Linked DNA regions of Homo sapiens: all the other regions are linked to region 3. The links come from fine-mapping of genetic effects on gene expression. A gene starts in region 3. Each other region holds a variant in brackets. All regions are shown on one strand. Distances are from middle to middle.

Region 1 (10,222 bases), 160 kb after region 3:
ATTTGTTTTACTATTTCTTATCTTAACAATGACATCAGATATTTATTCTTTATTCTAGATACTTTTCTTTATCTTTAAATTTCTCAAAATAAAACCAAGTAAATATATCAGGAAATACATTTTTTATTTTTCCTGATTAAGTGATAATCTATGATTTTTCTTATGAAATACTTAGAGGCTAGAAAGTTATTAGAAAATACAGAATGCTGCTATGTGTGTGTTTACACTTAATGTTTTAAAACTAATTTATTATCTTATATATAAATGTTTCTGGGGCTATTCCTCACGTAAAATTGATTATAAACACGGATATCTGATCATAGTCAGATTTGCACCATTACAGAGTTTAAGTGATAACTGAGTTCATAACTAAAATATTAGAGACATTACGGCAAAGTAAAATAACAACAATTTAAAAAAAAACCCACGCATAGAAATAGGATGATACTTTTTTTCTCTACAGCTTATTAGATCTGTGCTCAAGAAAGGTCAAGAGACTTAACCTCTCTGAGCACTAAATTCCTTATCTTTAAAATAGATGCAAGAATATCTTCTCAACAGGACCATATTGAGGATTAGAATGGAAAAAAAAAAAAAGAGGGAAGAAGAGAGAGAGCACCTAACACAGTGCTAGCCACATGATAGATACTAATTTTCTACATGAGTTTATTTTAAAACTGTCTTGAAAAAACATAGTATATAGTGATAACAACTAATTCTTTGGTAATATATAACAGAATATTCATAAGGCAAGATTTTGGAAGGATTCAAATGTGGCTTCTTATTTATGCATTATATCCTAATTATCTATATGTATTGTATGTCTGATTGCTAGTCAGTTAGAAAAAAGACAGAATATCCCTTCCTTCAAACTATGCCAGGCTTAAAAACAATAGAAATTACTTATAATGGATGGGGGAGAATTGAAATGAATGAAGAAAAACTATCATCACTTATTTAAATTACACTTAATTATTGAGGGGATGGTTTTTAAAATTCATCATTATCTTACATTTTAATAGCCTTTAATAGAAGTCTATTAGACTTCTATTAAAGTAGAGAAATTGGTGAATTTTACTATTTACAGAAAATTGTGTCTTTTGACTAATATGAGACAGAAACTTGATATATGGTTTTAATTTATTCCTGTACTTCCAGTCTTCACAAAATGAATATTCACAAGTTGACTGATTTGATTGTAACACAATCGAAATAAATGATTTATGAAGAGAACAAAATTGAGTAAATTAGAATACCATGAGGCAAATGATATCCAAGGAACATAATTGATAAACTGAAAAAATTTACATCTGATAGCCAGCAACCAGTTCCAGATATTCCTAGAGCAGGAATGGAACTTGATACATCACATGGCCCAGAACACTGATTTTAGCATATGGATTTCTGAAACTTGAGCAAAAGCTTATTCTGGCCTTATAGATGCAAAAGAATAGAACCAGCACAATGACTTTTCTTTTTCTAGCATATAAATATTACCACCTTTTATTCGTTTAACAAATACTTGGGAGAGTTACCTTTTGTCCTCCCACCCCCCATAGCAATCCTTTGCTACGTAAAGACAAAAAGGTAAGCGTCCATTAATTGAGTCACTTATTGTAGATATTATATGACAAATTTTACATTTCTGTATATGTTATTTCATGGTCACAGCAGTGTTGTGAGACAGGTATTGTTGACAGTGCTTTACTCTGCAGAAGAATAAAGTGATACTCAGTTAAATATATTTTCTAAGTTTACACAATATTAAAGTTTAGATTCAAAATCAGATTTGTTTTATTTATGACACTGTTTCTTAAACAATGAAAAATTGTTACATAATTTTTCCACTTATCTCCTTATAGGGACATGTATGTTCTGAGATTATTCTATGCTACTTTTGCTTTTGGTTTGTGGTTAATATTTAGGTAATGATGCATTATCCTTCAAACATGAATAGTATCATCACCCTGTGTTTTTTGTTGAAAGAAAGTATATGTATCAAAGCTATTAACTTAGAGTACAACTTTTAATCTATTCTATTATTCGGGCTTCAGATAAACAGTCCAAAACCTAGATAAGAAAGTGAAATGAATTATTTAGGCCAAACCGGCTTTACATGTGCTTCCACTATGCATAATTTATCAAGAATTTTCTCTTTTCTTGTAGGGATGACTTGTCAAGCTCGAACATCATATACTGAAGATGAAGTTCTTTGGGGTCATCGTTTTTTTCCTGTAATTTCCTTAGAAGAGGGATTCTTTAAAGTTGATTACTCCCAGTTCCATGCAACATTTGAAGTCCCCACCCCACCTTACAGTGTGAAAGAGCAGGAGGAAATGCTTCTCATGTCGTCCCCTTTAATAGCACCAGCCATAACTAACAGCAAAGAAAGACATAATTCTGTGGAATGCTTAGATGGACTAGATGATATTACTACAAAACTACCATCTAAGCTGCAGAAAATTACTGGAAGAGAAGACTTTCCCAAAAAACTCTTGAGGATGAGTTCTACAACTTCAGAAAAAGCCTACAGCTTGGGAGACTTGCCCATGAAACTTCAACGAATAAGTTCAGTTCCGGGCAACTCAGAAGAAAAACTGGTATCTAAAACCACCAAGATGTTATCTGATCCCATGAGCCAGTCTGTGGCTGATTTGCCACCAAAGCTTCAAAAGATGGCTGGAGGAGCAGCTAGGATGGAAGGGAACCTTCCAGCCAAATTAAGAAAAATGAACTCTGATCGCTTCACATAACAAAGCACTCCCTTAGGCATTATTTAATGTTTGATTTAGTAATAGTCCAATATTTGGCGATGAGGTAATTCTCCCTAAGGAATCTGAAAGTATATTTTCCTCCCAGTTCTACAAGCATATTTGAGAACCCTTCCTTTCCCAAGTATTGCGAATGTGCAGAAAGCAACAGTTACGGAGGGAGGACATCATAAGGAAGTTATTAACGGGCATGTATTATCACATCAAGCATGCAATAATGTGCAAATTTTGCATTTAGTTTTATGGCATGATTTATATATGGCATATTTATATTGTATATTCTGGAAAAAAAATATATATATATATTTAAAGGGGAGATACTCTCCCTGACATTTCTAACATATGTATTAAGCCAAACATGAGTGAATAGCTTTCAGGGCGATAAAACTAAATATATGTCTGTGTGTGTGTGTGTATGTATACACACATATACATATATATATACACATACATACACATACATACATACATACATATATATCTGATAAAATTGTGATGTTTTGTTCAAAGTTGTAGTTCTTGTGCATGTTTACTTTATTAGAGTAGGAAGGCTACTGGCATTAATTATTAATACCAAATATTTTAGCCTTAAATTTTTGTCATTTTAAAATCTGATTTAATGTTTTCTGCTGTTTAAGGTCTTGGGAGGCTTTCAATTGTATTTTATATGAGAGAATCACACAAGTTTGTGCTATCTATGGCCCTGCAAAAATATAACCATTACATGTTTAAATTGTAAATTTTAGAGCATACCAGTACTCAGTATAGCATTGAACATTTCTTATGATTTTTAAAAGTTGCTAGTACTGGGGAGAAATAATTGTTGATTAATTTGAGAATTATTCCTTTCCTAGACTAATTAAAATCTGGAAATCTGTTTTGTATATGATCTAATACAAAGATGAGCTCTGAACAAACACTGAATCATGTTAATAGACAGTAGCCAAGTTATATTGAATATATCAGAATCTGTGTGAAGTTACACAATTAATTGTCCCTGTTTCAAACTGAGTAAATTGGAAACATTTTCTTTCTTTTTCTGGAAATTTTGTCCATTTTAAAAACCAATCATTTTAAGAAGACATGACAATGCAATGAAACAGATGATAAATATTTATGCTTAAAATATGTATGTCTAATTGAGTCTCTTTTTTATTCTGTTTTCTTGTTTATGGCATTTGTTGTAACAGGATAGACTTTTTCCTCACCTAGGAAACCTATCCCATGCCTGTCACTTATAGTTCAGGAGGAAGTTTTTGCACAGACCAGAGAGAAATTAAAATTAGATGATAAATTGAAGATATCTTACACACAGTTTTTTGGTGAACACTGATTTTATTGGTGTCTTAGATCCCTAGTCTACCCAAATAATTTTAACAGTACTGTTTTTTCTAATCCTGAAGTCTGATATTTATGACTCATTAGCAGGAATCAAAACTAGTGATCAGTAGAACACTTTCAAAATAAAAATTTGGAATGCAGACTTTTATGAAAATTTAAAAGTGCTCCTTAACAGAATATCATGGGTTTTCCTATAAAACTTCTTTAAGTATTGTAATTCCAGTCTGCCCCAACTTTAAAAAAAATTCTTATTAATATGTCAGTCATTAATTGCTAGTTTGGGCTCTCATTATTTCCTGTTTTTTAACAATTTTGTGATAATTTTATTATTGGCAAATTAATACATCAACACTTAAATCATTGACTATAATAATACCTTCTGGCTACCTCTGTATCAACCAAATTCTGTAGGTGCAAACATATACCAGGGAATTCTTACTGGCAAAATGATCAATCTGGAGTGTGCATCCACTGTGAATGGAGCAAATTGCCCTATACCCATTGATAACCTAGCTTTCTTAGTTTGTAGATGTAGGAAACAAAATAGTGACAGAGAGAGAAGGGGGTCCACAGGGCATGGTATATTTATCAGCAGTGGAAAAAAAGTGCATAGATCATTTAGTCCAAGAACTTAAAACTAAATAGAGCCATAATTTACTTTGGAGAGTCATTTTAATTTGTCTTTGGTACCAAGGAGAAGACGGAACCAAAAACAAACTCTCCAAGTATATTCACACATTCAACAAAATTTTTGCATGCCTTCTATGTCGTAGGCATTTTTAGTTCCTGGGGATTTGGACATGGCTAAGTCAGAGAAGGCCATTGCTCACCATGAACACTGTATACCAGAAGGAGAGTGGGGAGGAGACAAAAAACAAATAAGACCACTTCAGACAATCAAAGTATCAGTTAAGAGAATGAAAACAGGCCTGACTCAGTGGCTCACGCCTGTAATCCCAGTACTTTGGGAGGCGGAGGTTGGGGGATCACCTGAGGTCAGGAGATCGAGACCAGCCTGGACAACATGGTGAAAACCCGTCTCTACTAAAAATACAAAAATTAACTGGGCATGGTGGCAGGCACCTGTAATCCCAGCTACTGGGGAAGCTGAGGCAGGAGAATCGTTTGAACCTGGGAGGCGGAGGTTGCAGTGAGCCAAGATTCTGCCACTGCACT[C/T]CAGCCTGGGTGACAGTGCGAGACTCCATCTCAACATCAAAAAAAAAAAAAAAAAAAAAAAAAAAAAAAAAAAAAAAAAGAATAAAAACAGGGTAACATAATGCAAAGTAACTGTGTGGAATAAAAATTGATTATTTTAGAAAATGTGACTGGCTTAGGACGGGGATAATATGTGAACAGAAATCTATCTCATGAGAAAGTGCTACTGTTGTCAAAATTACCTTATCTGAGTGAATGGTATTTTTTTTATCTTTTCCACACATGCGTGGGAAAGGTATGATTTCTGCATGTAATTGCAGTTTAACCCTTATTTCTAGGTTGATCATAGGTCCCAGTTTACCCAGGAAAATTCCAGTTTATACCTGTTGTACCTGTGTAATTATTGGTAGCACTCCCTTTCACTCTTACAATGTCTTGGTTTGGATGATATATGGTGAAGTTTTTGTTGAAACTAAATTATGAAGTCTGATATATTTGGATAAAAATAAAGAATTGCTTTTCTTCTCCTTTTGCTGATTTTTTGACACATCATTCTAAGCAAAATCATCTCAGCTTCGTATATTTCAGCCTGAAGTACTTCTTACCAAAGTTGTTTCATGTAACATTTGTTCAATATGTTCGTGACATGTCTCTCAGTAATGAAAAGTTATGCATTTTATTGAATGAATAAAAACCTAACCTCTGCTATTTCCATTTCTGGAAGTTGTAAGAGCTCACATTAAAGACAGTAAAAGTCAATTTAAGCCAAGATCATTTTCAGCCCACCAATGTCATGGCTATTGGAAAGGAAAACCTAATGTGATCATTGAACTATCATAACAAGTGGAAACTAGAACTTTTTTATAGCATTTTCATGATATAGGTCCTGTTATAGTAAGATATTTCATTCTATTTATCAAAATGGTGTAAATAAAAGAAACACAATTATTTTGGTAATGCTTATCTTCAGTTTAAACATTTATTCTTTTCAGAAATATGTAAATACCCTTTTGTAAATATATACAAAATGAAAAATAAGGATATTTTACCATTAATTATTTCTGAAAGATTCTTATGCTGTTTTAAATTTATCTATATATGGCTTAAAATATTATGAAAAGAGCCTTTTTGTCAGGACAAAATGGCTCATAATACAGTATTTCTACTGGAGGAAGACTGGGGTCATCATGGGAAAGCTGGCTTACATTCTATTAGTTCTTACATTCTTCAGAATTTATGTTTGAATTACATTGTACATATTTAAATTAGCATCAACCTAATTCCATTTTCTGGCATGAAATCTATAATTATTTAAGTGTAAAAGGTCATTTAGTTTCAAAAATATAAACTCATGTATTCAATACTGCAAGTTCAATTTTATAAAAAACGGTATTAAACTTTTGAAACATGATTGGGTTTAATTTTTAGTGTTCTCATCCTTTTTGCACTCTTCACCACTTAATTATTCACATTTCTTGACTCAGTTTGTTTATCATAAGACTCTTAATTCCTGAAGGGCAATCATTAAATTCATCACAAGTCATTCCTTGATAATTCCTTTTATTTTGGCTGCTTATTGGTAAGATGCTTCAGCAATACCAAACGTCAGCTTAATAATGCAGATACTCAGGACCTGCGTTTCTTGGAGGAAGCTTCATGGTTATCCTACCCCTTGCTGAACCAGTGTTTTAAAAGCTACAGTAAGTAAAGCAGACAAACGCATAGTTTTTCTAATTTTGTTTAAGTATCTAATCATCTTTTAATAAAGCATTCAGTTGCTTCACCTGTGTTTCACAGAAAAATGTGTTCTTAATCTTGGATCAGATGAGTTTTGTGATGTGTAATGTGCCCAACTCCCAGGCACCTCAGAGAATTAATTTAGAAAAGCTAAGTCGCTACAGCTTCTGACCTAGTAGATTTCCATACAGATGGTCTTTTATCATTTAATAGAATTGTTAGGGTTGTTCCTCAAAATATATTTTGTTGTTGTTGTTGTTGTTTACAATTTTCTTCTGGACTTTCTTGTTGCTTAAAGGTCTATTATATGTCTGAATGCTGTGTTTTCAGAGAGGAAGATGTTTGCATATTCTCTTTAACTTAGATATTCTCCAGTTTCACTGTGATTTCTTTGGGATTTTTAAATCTACTTGTAAAGATTTTTTGAAATTATAGCTGTTTCAGAATATCTGGGCTTTTTCTGACCAATAGATGCTATAGAGCACAAATACTGTAGGACCTACTATATTCTCCTTGTTTACTAAGAATCAAATCCATGCTTCTATTTATCCTCTCCCAGCTCTGAATGTGTCAATCATGTACATGGTGACTTGCACACATTATTTATATATTAGAAACAACTCTGCATGGTAAAGATCATCCCTATTTTACACTTAAAGAAACTTATTCTCAGAGAGGCTGTTTAGCGGGTTTTTAATTAAATCCACAAACATGGGGTATAGTCTCTGCTCCCTGGAAGTATAAAGAATAAAGAGAATCCCTTTTAAAAACAACTGCATATTCCAGAAAATTTGGATGCATGAACATAAATATTCAATGACTGTGTGCAATGGCTTCTAACCTAACAGAATGTCTTGTGCAATGGAGTTTGCATTTTTCCTAGCTGTCATTTGGAGAAATGGTGGATGGAAAATGAGAGTCGTGTAAGGAGTAGCTGTGGTCACAATTGTGTGTTGGTTAGAGGAGGAAAAAAAAAGTAGGTAGGAAGCAAGGACAAATAAAAATGAAGAAAATGTGGAGGAAAGTAGACACTTGAAGTGTTGCACAAAGAAATACCTAAGTGGCAAAGAGGTAAAAATGAAAAAGACAAGCTAAAAAATCAAGAGTCCAGTGGATACTTGAAAAAATACTGCAAATAAGCAGAAAGTTTCTTCAAACCCAGGTACCTCAGACCCAGAGGTTTTTTTAAAAAATGATACAGTAACATTTTGCTGTATTTACCTCATGTACTTATTAAATAAATAAAGTGTCATAGAAATCTAAAACAGGCTGGGCATGGTGGCCCACCTGTAGTCTCAGCACTTTGGGAGGCCAAGGCAGGAGGATTGCTTGAGCCCAGGGGTTCAAGACCAGCCTGGGCAACAGTGGCACTTCATCTCTACTAAAAATAAGTTTAAAAAAATTAGCTGGGCATAGTGGCATGTGCCTATAATCTTAGCTACTAGGGAGACTGAGGTGGGAGGATCCCTTGAGCCCAGGAGTTTGGGGGTTGTAATGAGTTATGATCTACGACACTGCACTCCAGCCTGGGTGACAGAGTAAGACCTTGTCTCAAAAGAAGAGAAAGAATAAAAAGAAAAAGAAAGAAACCTAAAACAGCCACTTTGTCTCTTCCAAATCCTACACTATTCCATTTCTCTTCCTCATCGGAAGCCATCACTACCTAGAAATGAGTGTGTATATTTCCTGTGCTGGTGTGTATATGTATACTGCATATGCATAAATTTATATGTAATGCATACTATAACAATCTGATATTTTACTTGAATATATTTCTATACAAATGTATATAAATATGTGATATTTATATATAAAATGTATTTGTTATATAAATATGTTTCTATAAAATATGTTATATATAACATGCTATATAAATATATATTTAATATAAATATAAATATTCATAGATACACACCTACTGATAAATTTGTTTTTATTTTTTCTTTCTTCTCTTGGATTTTGTGTTTTCTTTCTTTGCCTTTTTTAAAAAAAATTTCCATGTCTATTATTGTAGTAACCTTCAAAATTTAAGCTTGAGTACAGCAACTAATGAAACCAAAGCTAATTAACATCTCCACCTTCCTTTCAAACAAAAGAAGGATCTTACAGCGTATTAAATTCAGCCACATCTTCCCCTGTTTTCTCTGCTATTTTTGCATAGTATTACACGTGTTTTTAATGTTCTAACAAAAAACTGTTATTTTTAAGTCAATGCATCTGTATAATTGGCTATATATTTCCTGATTTCTTCATTCACCATAGCTTCTTGCATCCTACTCATTCATCCTTTCTTTTTTTTCTTAATTAAGTATGTATTTTAACAGTTATTTAGGCAAACATCTGTGATCATCTTAAATGTTTTTTTCTTTTTTTACATTTTTTTTCTGGACATTCTTGTTGATTAAAAGTATATTATATGTCTAATTGACGTGTTTTCAGGAAGGAAAATATTTTCATATTCTTCAGTTTCACTATGATTTCATTTTTCAGGTAACAAAAATTTCTTCACATGGGATATCCTGGATAAGATATCCATAATTGCATGATGCTTAGGTTTGAGGTTTCAGCTTCTCCCAGAATACCTTCTGCTCTCTCCATAGCCCCGTGCACAGACAAGCTTCCTTGTCACTGGGCCTTAGGTGGAAAGTTTGGTTCCTGATAAGGTTTTACACAGCCCTAGACTTATTCAGGGTCTTCAGTTCCAGTTTCCTGTTTAACAGGTATCGAAGTTGCACCTTTCCCATTATAGGTGTTAAAATCTCAGTCCCCAAATTAGAACCTATCTCCATGTCTAATTCTCCTGAATTTGCACACAGACACACACACACACACTCACATACATGGAAGAAACTCCTGAATTTTAAAGACATTGTTTCACATGTCTTATATATATATACATAAATATATACACACACACACACGCTTTCATATATACATGTGCATATATCTGTGTGTGTGTATATATATATATATATAGAGTAGAAAGTCACACATACACATAAAGAGTCATGAAGTTTTTACAAGGCTTGTTACAATAAAAACAGCCCCCACTCTCTACCTACTCTCTCCTCACTCTCTCCCCAGAGACAAAGACTTTCAACCCTTTTAAATGACTCTATTGTTATTTACATGCAAATTTCTAATCATTCTTTTATTGCTTCCCTTGGTTTTCCATTTTGGGGTATTATTTGTTTGTCTTCCACTGTGGTAAATTATTT
Region 2 (10,222 bases), 110 kb before region 3:
ATCTAATCCCAGTTTCCCACAAGGGTTGTTCAATATTTGAAAATATTTATCAAGTCATTATCCAGAAATGGCTTTCCTCTAGATTAATTGTGTGCATTTCTGGACTTCCACAACCTTGATTGTATTTCCATAAAGGACATCTCTTTCACTTGTGTCTGTGTGAGGAGACCACCAAACAGGCTTTGTGTGAGCAGCAAGGCTGTTTATTTCACCTGGGTGCAGGCGGGCTGAGTCCGAAAAGAGAGTCAGCAAAGGGAGATGGGGTGGGGCCGTTTTATAGGATTTGGGTAGGTAAAGGAAAATTACAGTCAAGGGGGTTGTTCTCTGGCAGGCAGGGGTGGGGGGTCACAAGGTGCTCGGCAGGGGAGCTTTTGAGCCAGGATGAGCCAGGAGAAGGAATTTCACAAGACAATGTCATCAGCTAAGGCAGGAACAAGACATTTTCACTTCTTTTGTGGTGGAATGTCATCAGTTAAGGCAGGAACGGCCATCTGGATGTGTACGTGCAGGTCACAGGGGATATGATGGCTTATCTTGGGCTCAGAGGCCTGACATTCCTGTCTTCTTATATTAATAAGAAAAATTAAATGAAATAGTGATAAAGTGTTGGGGTGGCAAAAATTTTGGGGGGTGGTATGGAGAGATAATGGGCGTTGTTTCTCAGGGCTGCTTTGAGCAGGATTAGGGGTGGCATGGGAACCTAGACTGGGAGAGATTAAGCTGAAGGAAGATTTTGTGGTAAGGGGTGATATTGTGGGGTTGTTAGAAGAAACATTTGTCGTATAGAATTATTAGTGATGGCCTGGATACGGTTTTGTATGAATTGAAAAACTAAATGGAATAAGAGAAGGAGAAAAACAGGTATTAAAGGACTAAGAATTGGGAGGACTCAGGACATCTAATTAGAGAGTGCCCAAGGAGGTTTGGCATAGCCCTGCCAGAAAAGATTATTTATTTACTTTAAGAGTTAAGAGTGGCGGGGCCGGGCGCGGTGGCTCACGCCCATAATCCCAGTACTTTGGGAGGCCGAGGTGGGCAAATCATGAGGTCAGGAGATCGAGACCATCCTGGCTGACATGGTGAAACCCCTTCTCTACTAAAAATACCAAAAAAAATGGCTGGGAGGGGTGGTGGGTGCCTGTAGTCCCAGCTGCTTGGGAGGCTGAGGTGGGAGAATGGCATAAATCCGTCAGGCAGAGCTTGCAGTGAGCAGAGATCGTGCCACTGCGCTCCAGCCTGGGTGACAGAGCTAGACTCTGTCTCAAAAAACAAACAAACTAAAGAGTTTAGCACCAGGAGATATCAGCTGTGATGGCTTGGGGAAACAGTGTAAACCGGCAGTGTAAACAAGAGCAGGGCATTTATGAGTAGTTGAGAATGGTGAATAGGAGTATGACTAGACAGAAGATAGTAGGGATGACCAGTTTTTTGGGTGGCAGTCCAAGTTGGTCTGGTGTCTGGAATGAGACTGGGGCCTAAAAAAAAGGAGTGTCTATACAGGGGCTTAAATGGGCTGTACCCTTTAGCATTCCAAGAACAGGCCTGAATTCTGAGAAGGCCAAGTGGTAAAAGTATTGTCCAGTCCTTTTTAGGTTGGTGGCTGAGCTTGGTAAGGTGTGTTTTTAAAAGACCATTAGTCCGTTCTACCTTTCCTGAAGATTGAGGACCGTAAGGGGTATGAAGGTTTCACTGAATACCAAGAGCCTGAGAAACTGCTTGGGTGATTTGACTAGTAAAGGCCGGTCCGTTATCGGACTGTATAGAGGTGGGAAGGCCAAACCAAGGAATTATGTCTCACAGAAGGGAAGAAATGGCTGCAGTGGCCTTCTCAGACTCTGTGGGAAAGGCCTCTGCCCATCCAGTGAAAGTGTCTACCCAGACCAAGAGGTATTTTAGTTTCCTGACTCGAGGCATATGAGTAAAGTCAATTTGCCAGTCCTGGGTGGGGGCAAATCCCCGAGTTGATGTGTAGGGAAGGGAGGGGGCCTGAACAATCCCTGAGGAGTAGTAGAATAGCAGATGGAACACTGAGAAGTGATTTCCTTGAGGACAGATTCCCACGATGGAAAGGAAATGAGAGGTTCTAAGAGACGGGCTATCAGCTTGTAACCTACATGGAAGAGGTTATGAAATGACGACAGAATAGAATGGGCTTGTGAATCTGGAAGGAGATATTTTCCTTGGTCTAAGAACCATTTGCCTTGTGTGGGAAGAGATTGATAGTTGGAAGTTTCAGTGGGGGAGTAGGTGGGAATGGCCAGATGAGAAGGAGAAAAACTGCTGTGAGGGATAGAAGTTGGGACTAGCTGCTTTTTTAGCTAACTTATCAGCATAAGCGTTGTCCTGACCGATGGGATCTGATGCCTTTTGATAGCTGCTTTTTTAGCTACCTTATCAACATAAGTGTTGCCCTGAGTGATAGGATCTGATGCCTTTTGATGGCCCTTGCAGTGAATGACTCCAACTTCCTTTGGAAGTAAAGCGGCTTTGAGAAGCATTTTTATTAAAGATGCATTAATGATGGAGGACCCTTGCATAGTAAGGAAACCTCTTTCTGCCTATATACCAGCGTGGTGGTGCAGGATGTGGAAGGCATATTTAGAGTCAGTATAAATATTGACTCATAGTCCTTTTGTAAGAGTGAGGGCTTGAGTTAAGGCAATGAATTCGGCTTGCTGAAAGGTAGTGGAGGGGGGCAGAAAGTATATGCGTCAGGTGTGAGGAAGAAAATAGATTTTGGAAGTTATGAGAACTGTAGAGGGTGAGTTGAGCATAGTTTGTGATTTTGAGGGCCTCTAAAAGCATTAAAGCAGTGGCAGCCGCTGCACGCAGACGTGAGGGCTAGGCTAAAACAATAAGGTCAAGTTGTTTGGACAGAAAGGCTACAGGGCACAGTCCCAGCTCTTATGTAAGAAATCTGACCACACTAACCATGCCTAGGAAGGAAAGGAGTTGTTGTTTTGTAGAAGGATTGGAGTTTGTGGTATTAGCCAGACATGATCAGCAGGGAGAGCACGTGTGTTTTCATGAGAATTATGCTGAGATATGTAGCAGATGAGGAAGAAATTTGGGCTTGACTGAAGTAATGGGGGCTGTCTGTGAAGCCTGGTGGCAGTACAGCCCAGGTAATTTGCTGAGCCTGAGGGGTTTCAGGGTCAGTCCAAGTAAAAGCGAAGAGAGGCTAGTATGAAGGGTGCAAAGGAATAGTAAAGAAAGTATGTTTGAGATCCAGAACAGAATAATGGGTTGTGGAGGGAGGTATTGAGGATAGGAGAGTACATGGGTTTGGCACCATGGGGTGGATAGGCAAAACAATTTGGTTGATAAGGCGCAGATCCTGAACTAACCTGTAAGGTTTGTCTGGTTTTAGGACAGGTAAAATGAGGGAATTGTAGGGGGAGTTTATAGGCTTTAAAAGGCCATGCTGTAACAGGCGAGTGATAACAGGCTTTAATCCTTTTAAAGCATGCTGTGGGATGGGATATTGGTGTTGAGAAGGGTAAGGATGATTAGGTTTTAAGGGGATAGTAAGGGGTACATGATCAGTCACCTAGGAGGGAGTAGAGATGTCCTATACTTGTGGGTTAAGGTTGGGGGATACAAGAGAAAGATGCGAAGGAGGCTTTGGGTTGGGAAGAAGGGTGGCAATGAAATGTGGCTGTAGTCCAGGAATAATCAGGGAAGCAGATAATTTGGTTAAAATGTCTCAGCCTAATAAGGGAACTGGGCAGGTGGGGATAACTAAAAAGGAGTGTATAAAAGAATATTGTCCAAGTTGGCAAGAGAGTTGGGGAGTTTTAAGAGGTTTAGAAGCCTGGCCGTCAATACCCACAACAGTTATGGAGGCAAGGGAAACAGGCCCTTGAAAAAAGATAATGTGGAGTGGGTAGCCTCTGTATTGATTAAGAAGGGGACGGACGTACCCTCCACTGTGAGAGTTACCCAAAGCTTGGCGTCCGTGATGGTCTACGGGGCTTCCGAGGTGATCGGGCGGTGTCAGTCTTCAGCCGCTAAGCTGAGAAGATCTAGGAAGGAGTCAGTCAGAGAGCCCTGGGCCAGAGTTCCAGGGGCTCTGGGAGTGGCTGCCAGGTGAGTTGAACAGTCCAATTTTCAGTGGGGTCCCGCACAGATGGGACATGGCTTAGGAGGAATCCCGGGCTGTGGGCATTCCTTGGCCCAGTGGCCAGATTTCCAGCACTTGTAGCAAGCTCCGGGGGAGGAGGTTCTGGAGGAACCCCTGGCAGCTGCAGTTCAGGCGTTTGGAGTTCTTGGGTGCTGGAGATGTGGCTGGGGTTTGTCTCACAGTGGAGGCAAGGAATTGCAACTCAGAAATACATTGCTACTTGGCTGCCTCTACTCTATTATTGTACACCTTGAAGG[C/T]GAGGTTAATTAAGTCCTGTTGTGGGGTTCGAGGGCTGGAATTTAATTTTTGGAGTTTTATTTAATGTCAGGAGTGGATTGGGTAACAAAATATATATTGAGAATAAGACGGCCTTTTGACCTTTTAGGGTCTAGGGCTGTAAAGAGTCTCAGGGTTGCTGCCAAACGAGCCATGAACTGGGCTGGGTTTCTATATTTGATGAAAAAGTGCCTAAACTCTATCTGATTTGGGATAAAGAAAAAGGAGCATTAACCTTGACTATGCCTTTAGCTCCAGCCACCTTTTTAAGAGGAAATTGCTGGGCAGCTGGGGAAGTTCTCCACCTGTCCAGTGGCCGTTATATTACACTTTGCAGAACATTCAGGGCATTCAGGGAAACTCATCTTGTCCACCTATTAGCAATCAAATGCCTCACTGTTAGTAACACAGAAATGTGGGTTGAATAACCAACATGGACACCAAAGAGTTCTAAATATCCATTGTGGTCTAAGGTAACAAAGAATGAATCCTTTAAGCTTCATGGCCATCCATCCCAAACGTGGGGCCAAGCTGGTATAAAAGGTTGTGGAAAACAAGAAGTCTTAATCATAATCACTGAAGACTCTTAGGGTTCTAATCTGACCTTCTACAGCATTCACTCTGACCACCAACTTTGTGAACAGATGATTTTGAATCTTGGTTCCTCTGAGCTGTCTTTCTGATAACAATATAACTAATTGTATAAATCAGGATTTTCCAGGGAAACAGAACAATAAGAAACAGAACCCAATAAGAAATGTGTTGTAGGGGAAGGGGTGAGTGGTGTCAGTGTATATACATATATTATAGAAAGAGATTTACAATAAGAAATTTATTCGTGTTATTCCAGCTCCAGCAAGCTGAAAACCTAGAAAAACCAATGGTATAGTTCCAGTCACAGTCCAAAGGCCTAGTAAGCAAGAGAGCTGATGGTGTAAGTTCTAGTCTGAGTCTGAAGGTCAGAGAAAACTCTTTTCTCAGCTCAAAGACTGCAAATTCTCCCTTAGTCAGCCTTTTGACCTTTTCAGGCCTTGAACAGATCGGGTGAGGCCCATCCACATTGAGGGAGACAATTTGCCTTACTTAGCCTACTGATTCAAATGTTAATCTAACCCAGACACACCCTCATAGACATACCCAGAATAACATTTAATCAAATATCCAGGCACCTTGTGGCCTAGTCAAGTTGCCAAAACAATCAACCATCACACTAATATTTACTGAGAACCCTATATATCCCTGTCACTTAAGCCGGACTTTAGTCCTGTTATATTTGATTTAATCTTTTCAGAAAGTTTAAAAGGTAAGGTACAATTACTGTCTCCACTTTTCCAGTGACAAATAGTAAGTACAATGTTGTTAAATATTGTTATGAACTGAATGTTCCCCCAAACCCCCACCTAAAATTTATATGCTGAAATCCTAACCTACAATATGTTAGGATTAGCTCTCGTGAATGGGATTAGCACTCTCTTAAGAGGAGACATGAGAGAGATGCTGTTTTTTTTTTTTTTTTTTGGTCCATGTGAGGATACAAGAAGACAGCCATCTGCAAAGCAGGAAAAAGGCCCTCACCAGATACCAGATCTTGCATTTCCAGCTTCCAGATCTTTAAGAAATAAATTTTTAAGCTACCTAGTCTATGGTATTCTTTTTTATAGCAGTACAAGCTGACTTAAACAAATCTTTTCCAAAGATCACACTTCTAAGTAGTGGAACATCTGTCTAGCCCCAGAGCTGACTCAACTATTATGGACTAACTGACCCTAGTATGCTTGTTTTTTTGAGTCCAGCTGAGCCAGCTGAAAGGACAACAATCCCAGCTTTGGTAGCAATGGTTGCTCTAATGAAAGTGAACTTCAATCACACTATTGTTTATATATTTTGTTCGGTTAGCATGGCTGAGGACCTGGTATCCCTACTTTTCTAAGGTGACTGTGGGGAAGAAAAATCACAAGGCTTTTTGAATGGTCTAGAATGTTTATATTATAAAAAAAATCTTAACAACAACCAAATTTATACTCCATATTCTATTGCACCAAACTACTACCTGCTCACATTTCCACATTGTTACATATCTCTACTCAGTGATATACTGCAGTCTGCTCTTACCTGCTTGCAAGGGCCAACTGTGCACATTCCTTCCCCAGAGCCCATTGTTAGACATTTAGCAGCCCACCACTGACTTTATTCCTTTGTTCACGCTGATCACTTTTCTTCCATGACCTTCCTTGCCATTTTCACTGGGTTTAATTTTCAAAGGTCCTCATTCATCCTGTAAAAGTAATGTGTTGCCTATGTAAGCAATTCTTAAACTCCTTTCTTGATGCTTTTGCAGTATTTCATGGTATGTATGTACTATTGCTTTTTTATTGTTTTAAAATTATTTAGTTGTTTGAGCTTTTGAAAGATAGAGCCAATATTTTATTTATTTTTATATTCCCAGGATATAACAGAGCTCCCAACATGTGGTTGATGCTCAGTACATGAATCTTAGGCAGGGGATCTAATAAAAGTTTTTGAACACAGGAGAAATGTGATCAAAACACTAGTTGGAGAAAATGACTTTGGCAGTGGTAGGACAGGTGAATTAAAGTGAGGAAGATTGAAGATCAGAAGCATGGTTAAGTGTCTGAACCAGGATGGCTACAGAAGAAATGATGTTGAAAAGTCCATGAAGAAAGACTCAACAGGATTTGTTAATAATCAGCTGTGATATATACCCTTGCTACAGCATGTGTGGAGGCTGAGCTAGCAGTATCAGCATCTCTTGGAAGCTTGTTAGAAGTGTAGAATTACTAGCCCTACTGGAAACCCAGTAAATCAGAATTTGCATTTGAACAAGATCCCCAGGTGAGTTATATGCATATTCAAGTTTGAGAATCCTTGGTCAAAGAAGAGGAAAGAGTATAATATGACAAGCTTCAATCCTTTGTTTTTTAATCAAAGACTTTCTCAATATTTCCTTCTTTTACAGATTCCTTTACTGATTCCTGTGAAGTGACTGTAGGACAGGGACAGGTGAAACATTGGTTCTCGCAAAGAAAAATGGAAATAATTGAGATTTTTGGTGCATGTGTGGAAAATAAAGCCCCTTTATCCATAGAATGGATGCATATCCTTAAACAGCTCATGGAAAAATGTGCTGCATTGAAGCTTGTTTTCTACTGCATTTTTGTTGCAAAATATCAACTATTATGTGTAGAGATCCCTAAGTCCACGAGTAGCCTTAATTCTCAGGTATTACAGTGTGTCCTTCAACTCAAACTTATCTTCCTCATGGGAACCGTTTCCAAATAATTTTTTAACCCATTATTTCTAGCAGTCTTGTTCCTCAAGGCCATTTTTGAAGCTAAATTCAATTAGCTAAACTGGTAGATTAGTTGTCATGTGACAATGTTAATAGTAATAGTAACAATGTTCATACACATAAAGCTTATAATACGCCAAGCACCGTTCTGAGCACTCGACATATATCAACTCGCTAAATCTTCATAACAACATTATGGAATAATTATACAGCTCTACCACCCTGAATGTGCTTGATCTCCTCTGACCTTGGAAGCTAACCATAGTTGGGGCTGGTTAGTACTTGGATGGGAAACAACACTAAGAAAATGTAGCCTACATTTTACAAAAGAAGAAACTGAAGAATAGAAAAATTAAGTGATGTGCTTATAGTCACACTCCTAAGTAGCAGGCTTGGATTCAAACTCAATGACTTAAGAGACAGTTTTCTTAATGACTCTGCCAATTGTTCTGTAACTGTAGCATGCATCAAAATCACCAGGCGAATTTGTTAAAACACAGGTATCTGCCTTCCCAAGAATTTCAGATTCAGTAGGGCTGGATAATTTGCATTTCCATAAATTTCTAAGGTGATCCTGTGGCTGCTGGTCCAGGCATCACTCTTTGAGGATCACTTAATTGTGCTACATATGACCTCTCTGTGTTTGATAAATTTTAGCTTACCTAATTATGCTTTAAAATAGCCTTTTTGTAGAAAAATAAAAACTAGACCCAAATGAATGATATGCATTGAGAATTCCCAGATGCTTTGAAGAAAACATTTTCTGATTAAGCAAATAAATCTTTTGGAGTGGCTTGTACCACAAACAATTCATTGCCTTTTCTTTACAACTAATGCTTTTTGGTAATTCCATTCCAGTGAGAAACAGGACTAGCTGGATTTCCTAGGCTATCTAAAAATTCCTAATACTAGGGAATATAATGATTTCAGTATGATGAGTTAGAAATAGCAGGTGACCTTGATACTCTACTTGTTTCTGTTTTGTCATGAATTACCTTCATGCCCCGTGAAAGATCACATGACCTCTATTTCTTTACCTGTTACATGAGAGTCTTGGACTAAGTTTACTTGTTTCCTTTGTCTTAATCCCATAAATGAACAATTCAGGATTGAGGGCCAACTATCTCCCATCAGAAGGAGATTAGAGGCCCTACTGCAGAGTTACTTTATGTTGTTGCAATGATGCCCATGGCTTTCTTGTTGCCAAAAAGGAGGAAATAAAAGAGAACTCTGTCAGCAGTGTACTAATCATGAATCTATGCAACAGTGACAGTTAATCTTCTCTTCCTATTAATAGATGCAGATGCCTAAGGGCTTAACATTTTCCTACTAGCTTAATAAGGAGAAAAAGATTGAAGGGGAAGCAGAGATGCCTAATTGCATAGCCAGCAGCTATTACAGTGTTGCTCAAAGGGAGAAACTCAAGAGAAAGAGGCAAGATGGAAATTCAGCATTGGCCATGCCAGCAAGTTGTCCCCTAAGGAAATTAAAAGAAAGTCGTTTTGATCTGTTTTGGTGCATCTCTAGGAGAATATTCAATTAAGAACCCAGATGAGCTTTCACTCACCGTGGTGCCTGCACAGCTGTATAAAACAAAGCTGAAGATATATTGATCTTCCTGAGAATGCCATGGAATACTTACTGCAAATTCACAAAAGAAAAATAAAGCTAAGTCTTCCTGGCTTTACAAAACCATTTTGATTTTCAATTCAGGAAGTCATCTTACTGTGCTTAGGTGTTTCACTGGCATTTGAACATAGGAAGGTTGTGACAGGGAAAGGGACATGTATGCTTATAAAATGAAAAAAAATTCACTTGTGACTTTGAATTTTTTCTAGTTTCATTTATAAATTAAATGGATTTCTGTTACATCTCTAAGTACCATATTCTGACAGTCACTCTGGTTCCTCAAATAATGTATTCCCAATAGAGGAAAAATAGTACCTTAAAAATAACGTATTAATTAAGAAATAGACAGTTACATAAAAAAGCTAACACATTATTTACACATTAAATATACTTACCTTTAAACAACTTCCTCACTAACGAATAGCCACTATATAGACTATTAAAATGATGCTTTGTAAGCTCCTATTCTGAGATTATAAGTAATGTCTTGATGGACCACATTGAGTAGCAATTAATCAAATTTAAATTAAACAATCATGCTTGAGTGCTTACTATTGATATTGGTGGGCTCGGAGAGGTCCCCAAATGCCAGTGGGACATCGACCCCAGTTAGTGTTCAGGCTTTTGACACCACTGTGGGAACGAATTCCGGGCTGAGTCAAAAAATAGTGAAAGTATGACAATTTCTTGCAAAGTGAAAAGTACACACTCAAGAAAAGGGAGTGAAGGTATACTCAGAGAGTCTCATACAAGGGGGTTTGGGGCTTCTTACCTTTATGGGTTTCTTCAACCCAGGGGTGGAATATTGATGAAGATTCTTAGAAAAAGGTGAAGATTTTTTGGAACTGTGATGCCACCCATTTTTACACCAACTATAGATGTTT
Region 3 (10,222 bases):
CTTCCCCAGACAGTAATTAATATTTCTGGCCATGCAGACTGTCACGTGGTATGTCACAGTGGCAATAAGTGAATGACGAGAAGACAGACTCCAGGGATACTGAGATGTTCAAAGCCTTGCTTTTGTCACAGTTGGCCGATTAAGTCATTTTTAGAATTTGGACTTCTCAGGGGCAGAGGTTTTTTCTTTCATATTAGATATACTCTTTTCCCCACACCGTTCAGTTACATAATAGGATAAGTGCATGTAGAAAGTATAAAACACAGAATCATATTCTTCATTTTTGAAGTTATAGTTATTCATGATATTACTAATTTTGGACACAGCAAATAAGACACTGCCAGAAGTACTTTCCAGGCAGAATAAATATGTAGCTTGCTCCTAGCCGAGTTTGTTAAATATAGCTTTGATCCCCCCCACCCTCATGAACTGTATGGTAGTTTTCTCGTAATCTACCACCCTATCTTTAAATGTTAGACTCCAGATGATTTTGTATTCTGCAGTTACATTTTCCAGATCTTTTCTGGCTTTGTGGCCTGGCCTGAAATTGTGTGCCTCTCTCTCCTTTGACCCATTCTGCTTGCAGTGTTTCACTTCAGTTCATCAGACAGCACCTGATTAGGAGGCCTTCCATCATCCATTCCCCACACATCCTCCTGGCCTCTGCACAACGGGGCTGGCTGCCCTCCAGAACCTCATCCTGGAAGCAGCTGCCCTCACAGGAAAAGATGAGTTTGGTTCATCTGTGAACATTTTCAAGGAGTTGAACTCAATGTCACAAATAGGTCAAAGCCTCAGTGACATTTAAAGTGTGACAAAATGGCATCCTTAAAAATATTTAATTTCCCTGGCAGGACTGTGTCATTAAAAGAATAGAAATCTTGACAATAAGCAGATGTGTTTTGGAATCCCTGCTTCACTGCCTATCTGTGTAATATAAATGCTAACCTGTACAGTTCTAAGCACATTACCTGGCACATTAAAGTAGGTTCTTAATAAATTTTGGTTCTCTCTAAAACTCTATCAAGTGTTTATCATGCGTAAGGCCAGTTTGGATCATGGAATACCGGATGGTACCAAATTATTAAGAAGTCGATGCTCAGGGTGCTCAGAGGGAATCTTCATAAATTCTAAGCTGAAATACCAGTTAGAATGTGAAAAATGCCACATTGCAAATCTAGGGAAATGAGAGTTCAGAGGAGGGATGTATTACTCTTAGTGGGAGTATATAAGGAAAAACTTTATGACATCAATAGCAATTGAAATAAAATATGAAGAAGTCCTTCCCTTTCCTTACATACTAGTGCCTATTATTTGAACTTTGCAGGTGTAGAAAAAAGATATTCTAAGTGATGAGAAAAAAAGTGAGCAAATGAAGATAATATAGGGCATGTTTGAGAAATACCTAATAGTCAAAGTTGGCTAGAGCAAAGTGCCCATTAAAAGGAAGGTAGGAGATAATTTGGAAAGCTAGATTATGCCATGTGTTGGAGAATCTTAGATTTCACCTGCATGAGAAGCTAGGCCTATAAAGGAAGAAGGCCTTTGCCACGAATCAGGAATCCTAGGCTCTTTTCTTACTCTGCCACTACCTGGTAAGGGACGGTAGAGCATCCAGGTTCTACAGTCATATTGTTCTGTGGTCAAATCTGTTTCCACTTATCAACTCTGTGACATTGAACAAGTTATTTCGCCTTTATATCCCCAATTTCCTCACTTGTAAAATGAGAGGATTAGACTAGACCATGTCTCCTGAAGTATAAACTTATTTGTTTATAAATTTGGTTGCTAGAAAATGGCAAAGGTTTTTCATGAAAAAGTGTTTTTCAAAAAGTGGGAATGTTTTAAGATCTTCCAGATGAAATAACTGGAGAACTTTTATTTTCTATAACAATACTAAACACATGGTTTAAGGTGAGAGATCTAGTACTACTATCCTGGGCAGTCTGCAGGAGAGGAAAACCAAATAAAGACAAGAAAGTTATTTGAGTTGGGCCTAACTTGAAATGAGAATTTGAAGAACAGTAGTGACTTTTTTTTTTTAAAGAGAGGGGGAATTATGAGGGATATTGCAGCAATAACAATAAAAAAGACTTGGAACCTGATTCAGTATCATTTCTAAAGCTAACGAGCATAGGAAGTATTACTCTTTTTCAACAAAAACTTACATGTTTTTTATATTGCCATATAAGTGATCTGATTTAGTCATTACTTTTATTTAATTCCATATTACTCAGAGAGCTTCAATGCATGTAAAGTTTCCAGTGATATAGATTGGCACATATTATTGATCTAATAAATATTTATTGTGGACCTAGTATGTGATACTTTTCTAGGTACTGGAGACATAGCAGAGAACAAGACAGATGAGGTCCTTGCTCTTGTACAGCTTACATGCTACAACTGATAATGGTGGAAGAGAAAGACAACAAACAAATGAAGAAAATGGTAGCTAAAAAAAAAAGTGAGATGAGGAACATAGATAAGGTTGATGTGATGGGAATACCTGAGATGCTAGGGAAGGCTTCCCTGAGAAGGATGCATTTAGGTTGAGAGTTGAATGAGTGAAGGAGCGAGCAACACGGAGCGGCAGAGCAAGAACTTTCTAGGTAGAGGGAACAGATCTAGTGCAAAGGCCCAGGGCTGGAGCTATGCTTTGGTGTGTATCAGGAATTGAAAGAAGCCAAGCTGCCAAGGGCATAATGAGCTTGGGGGAGAGTAGTCAGAGATGAGATGAGAGTATAGGTGTTAGTTCACAGCATGCTGCCAACTCCAAAAGCTCATTTGTAATCTCTTCTTGGTCTTGTTGCAACTTTATAGCCCACTATATAACATCCTTCATAGCAGAAATAAAAAAAACACATTTACTCTCTTTTTTCATACCAACACTAGGAAAATGTTCAAACTCCCAATTTCTCAGGGGAGAAAATTAGGTCTCAAAGTTGTTCAGCTACTTGCTCAAGGTCACACAGCTTGTAAATGGCACAGACGCGACTCAAATCAGGTCTTATGATTCTAGGACCAGAGAAGTTTCCACTTCCCACGGTGTCACTTTCCCTTCTTATGTAATTTTAAGAGAACAAACAGATAGTTACTGACCTTTTATCAGCGAACTGGCAGGAGAAGCATCTGTAACTGAGGATAGATGTTTTAACCAAATAACAGTGAGAGTCCCCTGCTTATGGCTGACAACCTGACATGCACTTTCCTGCAGTTGGTTTATAAGTAGAGAGGTAGAGAGGAGTACCTATTGGCAGAGAATGCATAGAGTAATTATGTACTTATTTTCCTTTCCATGGGAATCTTATAGCAGCCTTTTGCTTTTATAATGCCATGATTTGATGATTTTCCAACAAAATCAACTTCATGTATCTGGGCTGACTGAAATATGCCTTAAGATACCATGGCATTTTAAAGCAAACGTGAAATGTGGTAAACAAGCTGGTATTTACTCATGGGCACTCTATTAGCTATTTCTGCACTTTGCCCCTCCATTAAGTTAACTGCCAGGCTGAGGCCATTAAAATCCAGCCTTCTTCCTTCAATTATAGGCACACATTAACTCTAGATATTCTGAGCCTTTCTAATAGAGCCATTTGCAGAAAGGATTTCTATTAGTGTTTCTCTCCTTTCTGTTCTCATCCTAAGGCCCCTCCTGCTTCCTGCAACTTTGAGTTCTGAATATGCCTATCTGAGAGCCAGTTGGGATCTCTGTTTATGATGCAACCCCAAATCCAGGCATCCGTTTAAACGAGTGCCCAGTTACAGAGACATATTGTACTTCTCTTCCTTCAGAGAGCAGCATTTGCTTTTTACTGGGGGCTTTCTGACTGATGCAGGGGGCGAGGAAGGAGAGTTGGCGGGCGTTTGGGAGCAGATTTAGAGCCGCTTCTCATTGGAGGGGCTCGCTTTTCCTGAGCTGCCAGACACTGCAGGCTCAACTGAGGCTCGGAGGTGCAATTCAGGCTGGTGGAGCAGCGGGGGAAGGCAGGGACAGGCGGGGCTAGCGCGGCTCTGCAGCTGATCACACGCACCACCACACACACCACATTCCTGCTGCCCCGGCTTGCGCCTCGCATCTTCCACCCGGGGCCACCGAGGCGCTGACAAGGAGTGGGGGACCGAAGAAGGAAGAGGCAGAGGAAAAGCTAGAGCGGCGCTACTGTTTAACCTGAAAGTCTGACCGGCAGCCCAAGGCTCGAACCCCGTCCAGCAGCACCGCTGTCGCCTGGAAGGAGGGCACAGCGCCAAGGAACCCACGAGCCCCCGCTCGAGTCATTCTGTGCTCTGTGCGCCAAGGATCTTTCTGGCAGGGACAGCGCGGTGCCCTCAGGGAGGTGCGGAGCTTGGGGGACCTGCATTGGCGCCCATCGTGGTACACCAGGAAAAGTGGGAACGAGGAAAACAGCCGTGAGCGCAGAGTGCGAGGCCAGGCTGCCGCTACCGCCCGCTGCGCCGCCTCCTGCCCTCTCCCGCTGGGTGAGTGCCCAGGCTTCGCGCACTGCCGTGTCTCAGCTGAGCGCGGGGGCGGCCTGCGGGCCCTTGAGGGTCCGCCGGAGGGCCCCGGTGGCGCCCGCGGAAACTCGGCGGTCGGGGGACGCCAGGCGGACAGGTCTCTGGAGTCCGGAACCCGGGAATCTGAGCCCGGAGGGCGTGGGTAGGGGGCGTTGCACCAGTGCCCGGCAGACATGCCTTTGGGCGGGATTTTGGCTAAAAGATAGGAGACAGGTGCGCCGGGGGTGCGGGGAGCGGTCCCAGGGGGCGGGAGATTGGGGAGCGGCGGGGAGGGGGGAGGGTCTGGTCCAGGCAGGTAAAGGCAGCTTCTTAGGCAGCCAGCGAGTTGGCAGGTGGGTTGGGACTCGCTTGTCAACTCATTAATTTTAAGCAGTCAGTTTGGGGGTACTGCAGGATAATCAGGAGGGCCGTGGGGAGTCAAGAGGTGACCCGGGATGCCGGTGGTGGGGAAAGAAAAGAGGAGCCTCTGGAAGCTTGGAGGCAAAATTGCGCTTGGGTTCCTGTTCCTTGCATCCCTCCTGGCTTGAGTGCGGGAGAACACTTTTTAAAGACTCACCTTGGAAAGAAGGCCTCCGTCCCAGGGGAGAAGGAGAGGCGTCTGCAGGGGGCAGAGACCGCAGCTACCTGCCGGGTGCGCCCCCCACCCAGGAGCGCTCGCTTCGCCCCCTTTCCTCCCCCGCCCCCACCTCCTTATTGGTGCTAGTTTGCAGCGCCCAGCTCCTGCGCCTTCGCTTCGCGTTTGAATCTGGCTCGCCCCTTCGTATTATGTCTGCACTCCGAAGGAAATTTGGGGACGATTATCAGGTAGTGACCACATCGTCCAGCGGCTCGGGCTTGCAGCCCCAGGGGCCAGGCCAGGACCCTCAGCAGCAGCTTGTGCCCAAGAAGAAGCGGCAGCGGTTCGTGGACAAGAACGGCCGGTGCAATGTACAGCACGGCAACCTGGGCAGCGAGACAAGCCGCTACCTCTCGGACCTCTTCACCACGCTGGTGGACCTCAAGTGGCGCTGGAACCTCTTCATCTTCATTCTCACCTACACCGTGGCCTGGCTTTTCATGGCGTCCATGTGGTGGGTGATCGCCTACACTCGGGGCGACCTGAACAAAGCCCACGTCGGTAACTACACGCCTTGCGTGGCCAATGTCTATAACTTCCCTTCTGCCTTCCTCTTCTTCATCGAGACGGAGGCCACCATCGGCTATGGCTACCGATACATCACAGACAAGTGCCCCGAGGGCATCATCCTCTTCCTCTTCCAGTCCATCCTGGGCTCCATCGTGGACGCCTTCCTCATCGGCTGCATGTTCATCAAGATGTCCCAGCCCAAGAAGCGCGCCGAGACCCTCATGTTCAGCGAGCACGCGGTGATCTCCATGAGGGACGGAAAACTCACGCTTATGTTCCGGGTGGGCAACCTGCGCAACAGCCACATGGTCTCCGCGCAGATTCGCTGCAAGCTGCTCAAAGTAAGTGCTCCCCGCCCCTTCCCCACCGGGAGACCTGCGTCCCCCAAACCCGCGGAGTAACTCGTCTGAGAACCAGCCCGGGCCCCCTCCCCTGGTTCTACCTATAGCCACAGGTAAACTTCCTTTTGGGGGGTTGGGGGTTGGAGGACTGGGCAAAGAATGCGGTTGACAGTTCTGTTCCTTTTCCACTCACTCTCGTGCTCTTGTTTATATTCGTCATTTCGGATCTGCTTGTATCACTTACTGGACTAGTAACACGTGAGGACTGCTGTTGGCTCCTGGAGCCATGAGGGCAATTAGTGCCCTGTTCGCCTTCCTGTCCCTGTTGCTTCGCTATTCAGAGCGATTTTATTTGTTGTCTACACACTACCCCATTCAATGCGAGGTACTAGAACTCAACTGAACAGCTGTTATTTTGAAGAAATAGGTGCTGAACTTGCCTCAACTTTCACGATGGGCTTTTCTTATTTTTTTCTTTCCTTTTTTTCCCCCTAATAATATTAGGAGGCGGATTACTCCTCTGGACCCAATGACTTTAACTCTATGGTCATCTTTTTAACAAACACACAGATACAAGAAGCAGATAGTAAAGTGGAAGAAACCACACTTGGTTCTTTTAAATTTTTATTTTTACTAAATATTTTCTTGGAGAAGTATTCTTTGAAAGCTTGAGTGCTTTTCCTGTAGAGCCTCTTGTTAATTTTATTCTTAATTGCCTGTTTCTGTGAAGCCTTTGTCAATTACAGATTTCACTTGAAGCTTTCAGCATCCATTAAAGAAGAATTGCTTCCTACCATCAACGGTGTAAATGCTAAAACAAATTGCACATGGAGTGGTTATTAAAGCAAGGTCCGTCTAGTCGTTAGAGGGCACCACCACAAACAAGAGAAGTCCTTCTTAATCACTCATCCAATTAGAGTATGGGAAGGAAGGCTTAAAGCCCAGTTGTTTGTCTCTGTGTGTGATTTACAATTCATTTTTTTCCCTAGAGGGATTTGTCTTAGTAGTTTTCAGATGTCCATAAATTGAAAAAGATGACCTTAAATAAATAGTTCGTACAATGAAAAATATTTATCTGAGGTTGCGTAGAGAACTGAAGCCAGAGTCTGAATTTAGTATTAATAAAATGAAAATCTGATCAATATTTGAGATTTTGCCTTTGAAATTTCAATTTCCAATCCACAAGTATATATTGTTTTACACAGCCCCAACTTAATGTTGTAGTTAAAAGGGATCCAATGTGCTTTTAAAAAGTTTTGCTCTTGTGTCATTTTCATTATTCACTTACAAGATCTTACCATAATTATCCTTGACCAAGTTGCTCAGTAAAGTGTTTAAATTAAAGCAGTTCACTTGTCCTGTCACATCATATCATATGCATATTTACTGTGCTACATACAGTAAATAAACTACATTTTGTACACCACAGTGGAAAATTATCAACCTGGTTCTGATGTAAACGTTCATTAACTATGAATAAATAATTTGGGTAGATCATATTCATATATAATTAATTTCAATGAACTGCATACAATTTTTTAAAATTTAACTTAGTGTATTGTTATTGACCGCTGTTTGAACCAAGCAGTTTGTCAGATCAAGCTGGGCAGTTGTGTTGTAGATATGTTTATTACAATAGTAACTGTATGTGTCTTTAGCTTTGCATAGACCACAATATAGCACCTGCTTCTTTAGGTTAGGCCTACTAGACAGATAGAAATACTTTGTTAGTATAGTGGCAAGGTTTCTGTTCAAGCAATCCATGTTTATGTATCACTTTGAGACTTACTGAAGAGTAGTTTACAATATTAACTGATGTAATGGAAATTGACAATTAGACATTAAAGGTTATTTATAGACATTCTTTAGTTTTTTAAACATTTAAGGTTATTTATTACAGATGTCTTTTCCAGACAACATATTTTTGATGTTTATAGATTTTATTACATTTTATTTCAACAAAGCCAGTCATAATTAGAATTAACCTATATGTTAGTTTTTGTTTATTTTCTTCATACAAAGGTACAATGATTCTGAAGCACTCAGTCTCTACACTGGTGCAGGGTACTGATAATAATTTTTCTGCCTAAGGAAATGTACCACATATACCATAAAGAGTATCCTAGTTAAAAAGATGAAAGATGTATAGTGTCGACAAATTTGGAGCAAGGTGCTATATTAACACAAGGTGATAAAAACATCTAGTTAAAACAATACATATAATATTCTTATAAAGTCTTTTACTTTTGATTTGTTAGGAAGATGTCAGTGCTAGAAGTAAACACGATTTACCTGTGGCATCAATTTATATTTAAACAAAATTATGGTGAAATTCTCCCCATGGCGAAGGGAGAGAGTTGATCTGTGAGTAGCTCTTCAACTAGTCAGTTAGCGTAGCTTGTTCAAAGTTAATCTTTCCTGTAGGCATGGTAATTTAAATGAATTGCTGTAGTTCCTGTTATTCCTTAGACTTCATTAAAAAGGAGTCATGTTTTATTGGGGAAATAATAACATTCAGCAAAATTAGAGGGGAGATTTGCCTTTAATAAGTTGCTCTCATTTTCTCTTAAGAACTGAGATTAAGTGACCTAAAACAGTCAACTGTATTTTTAAATAGAAGCTATACCAAAATCTTGGCATAATAATATGTCCCTATCAGTTTTATACATTATTCTGATTAAATATTACACACAATTTCCCCCTTTTAACCTCCATTTAACAATTTAAATGCAAAATTTATGTGTCTTTAATGCAGAATGTGTAGAATTTTTAAGGCAACAAAATCCAGTATAATATTTAATGCTAGTAACTATAGTGCATGTATTCTTTTCCTACTACCTAATTTAATTTACTAATTTTTCTATTACTGTTTTCTTATTTGCTAAATAAAAGCTTCTTTAGATAAATGTAAAACTTCTATTTAATAATTATAAAGCACTTTTTGATTCTTGGGGAGACAATAAGAACATGGGCATGGCTTTCTAATGCTTTCTGTTATGAAATTTCTCATGTATAATAGTTTTTAAATGCCTAACTTTTGATGGAAGTTTTTTGTAAAACTTATTTGCCTAATTTTTATTATGCTTTTCACTTATTTGAAAGCACATTTTATCTCATCTCTATTCCTGTCTTCCAGCCTTACAAACACTAAAATATCTTTCAGTAGTCAAATATAGATCTTTCAACTTTATGCCTGGAGGGGTCAGTCCTTTTTCTACTCATAAAAAGAGAAAGTAGATTACATAAAAATCAAAGGCTATAGTTTGAAGTTCCTCATTAAAATCTGTGATTGAATTATAAATATAGCTATAGACAGCTCTTTTAAGATGAATATTCTTTCTTCCTCTTCTCCCCATATTGAATTTTTACTTGAATTTTCCATTTATTTTAGTTATCTTCTTTTCTCTTTTTGTTTTACCCAGAAAATAAGGACTAACTAGTATCATGGCTATGCTAAGTTAATATGTCATCCAATCGAAAGTTTTTATAAAAATGCCTGGATTAGGGATTTGAGACCAGTAGTTGTAATGTTGAACCCTATAGTTTAGTGCTGGGTTTAAAGGATTTGGAAGTCTTACTTACCCCTTTCTACCAACCTAATAATAATGGTTGATAGACCTAGGCATACAACTTGTTAGGGCAAGAATTAATTACTATTCTTTGATAACTGTTCGAGAAATTACAAATTTATTATCTCAATGCCATCATATATATGGTTATACTCATCCAGTCAGCACACATTTTTTACATAAAGTAAACATAAAATAAACTATGGTTGCATTCATATTTTGAAACAAAAAGGTAAGGATTAATTTTCTGGAAGCATAATGTTACTTCTTTATAGTTCTATTTATTGCCAATAGGCATCCTCTTTCTTTCCTAAGAGGTCAGCTGTGCAATCCTTAACTTTCACTTGTCAAAAGGTAATAGAGTACATTCCTTTCCTCTTCTAACATCACATATGTTATTTTTGTGCTCACCTTCTTTTATCCTCCATATATATGTGTGTGTGTGTGTGTGTGTGTGTGTATACATATCCTCCATATATATATCTATATTCCAAATTGGATGTTGTCTTGTTTCTCCATATGACTATTATCAAGTGCAGATGCAATAAAAAAATGGTGGTCTGAAAGACCATATATGTCCTAACATTTTGCTAATCTAACCACAACGATTCCTGAATCACAGGATTCCTGCAGTTTTCTCATATATTTATAGGTTTGCTTTCATTTTATAT

Alleles and levels. Positions count from the first base shown, and alleles are read on the strand shown. Sizes are in standard deviations (SD) of each study's normalised expression. Not every link is listed here.
In carriers of allele T in region 1, the expression in cerebellar hemisphere of the gene that starts at base 5,200 in region 3 tends to be lower than with C alone (moderate effect, 0.56 SD a copy in GTEx).

What was found. PIP is the estimated chance that this variant, and not a neighbour inherited with it, causes the effect.
Region 1: its variant is the best candidate, but not a certain one, in a credible set for the expression of KCNJ3 in cerebellar hemisphere (GTEx, PIP 0.54).
Region 2: its variant is the best candidate, but not a certain one, in a credible set for the expression of KCNJ3 in aorta (GTEx, PIP 0.54).

Annotation. Positions count from the first base shown.
Region 1 is chr2:154,852,561-154,862,782 of GRCh38, forward strand. KCNJ3 (potassium inwardly rectifying channel subfamily J member 3) reads left to right here. Exons shown (of 3, transcript NM_002239.4): 3 at 2,167-5,794. The coding sequence ends at 2,753. Among named protein-coding and RNA genes, the nearest start is that of KCNJ3, 160 kb to the left of the region's middle. The variant C/T (reference allele first, on the strand shown) is at 5,289.
Region 2 is chr2:154,582,494-154,592,715 of GRCh38, forward strand. It overlaps LOC105373693 (a long non-coding RNA gene), which reads left to right. Exons shown (of 3, transcript XR_001739741.2): 3 at 7,377-10,222. It also overlaps the pseudogene RNA5SP107. Among named protein-coding and RNA genes, the nearest start is that of KCNJ3, 110 kb to the right of the region's middle. RefSeq lists an enhancer at 868-1,595. The variant C/T (reference allele first, on the strand shown) is at 4,381.
Region 3 is chr2:154,693,496-154,703,717 of GRCh38, forward strand. It overlaps KCNJ3 (potassium inwardly rectifying channel subfamily J member 3), which reads left to right and starts at 5,200. Exons shown (of 3, transcript NM_002239.4): 1 at 5,200-5,982. The coding sequence starts at 5,281.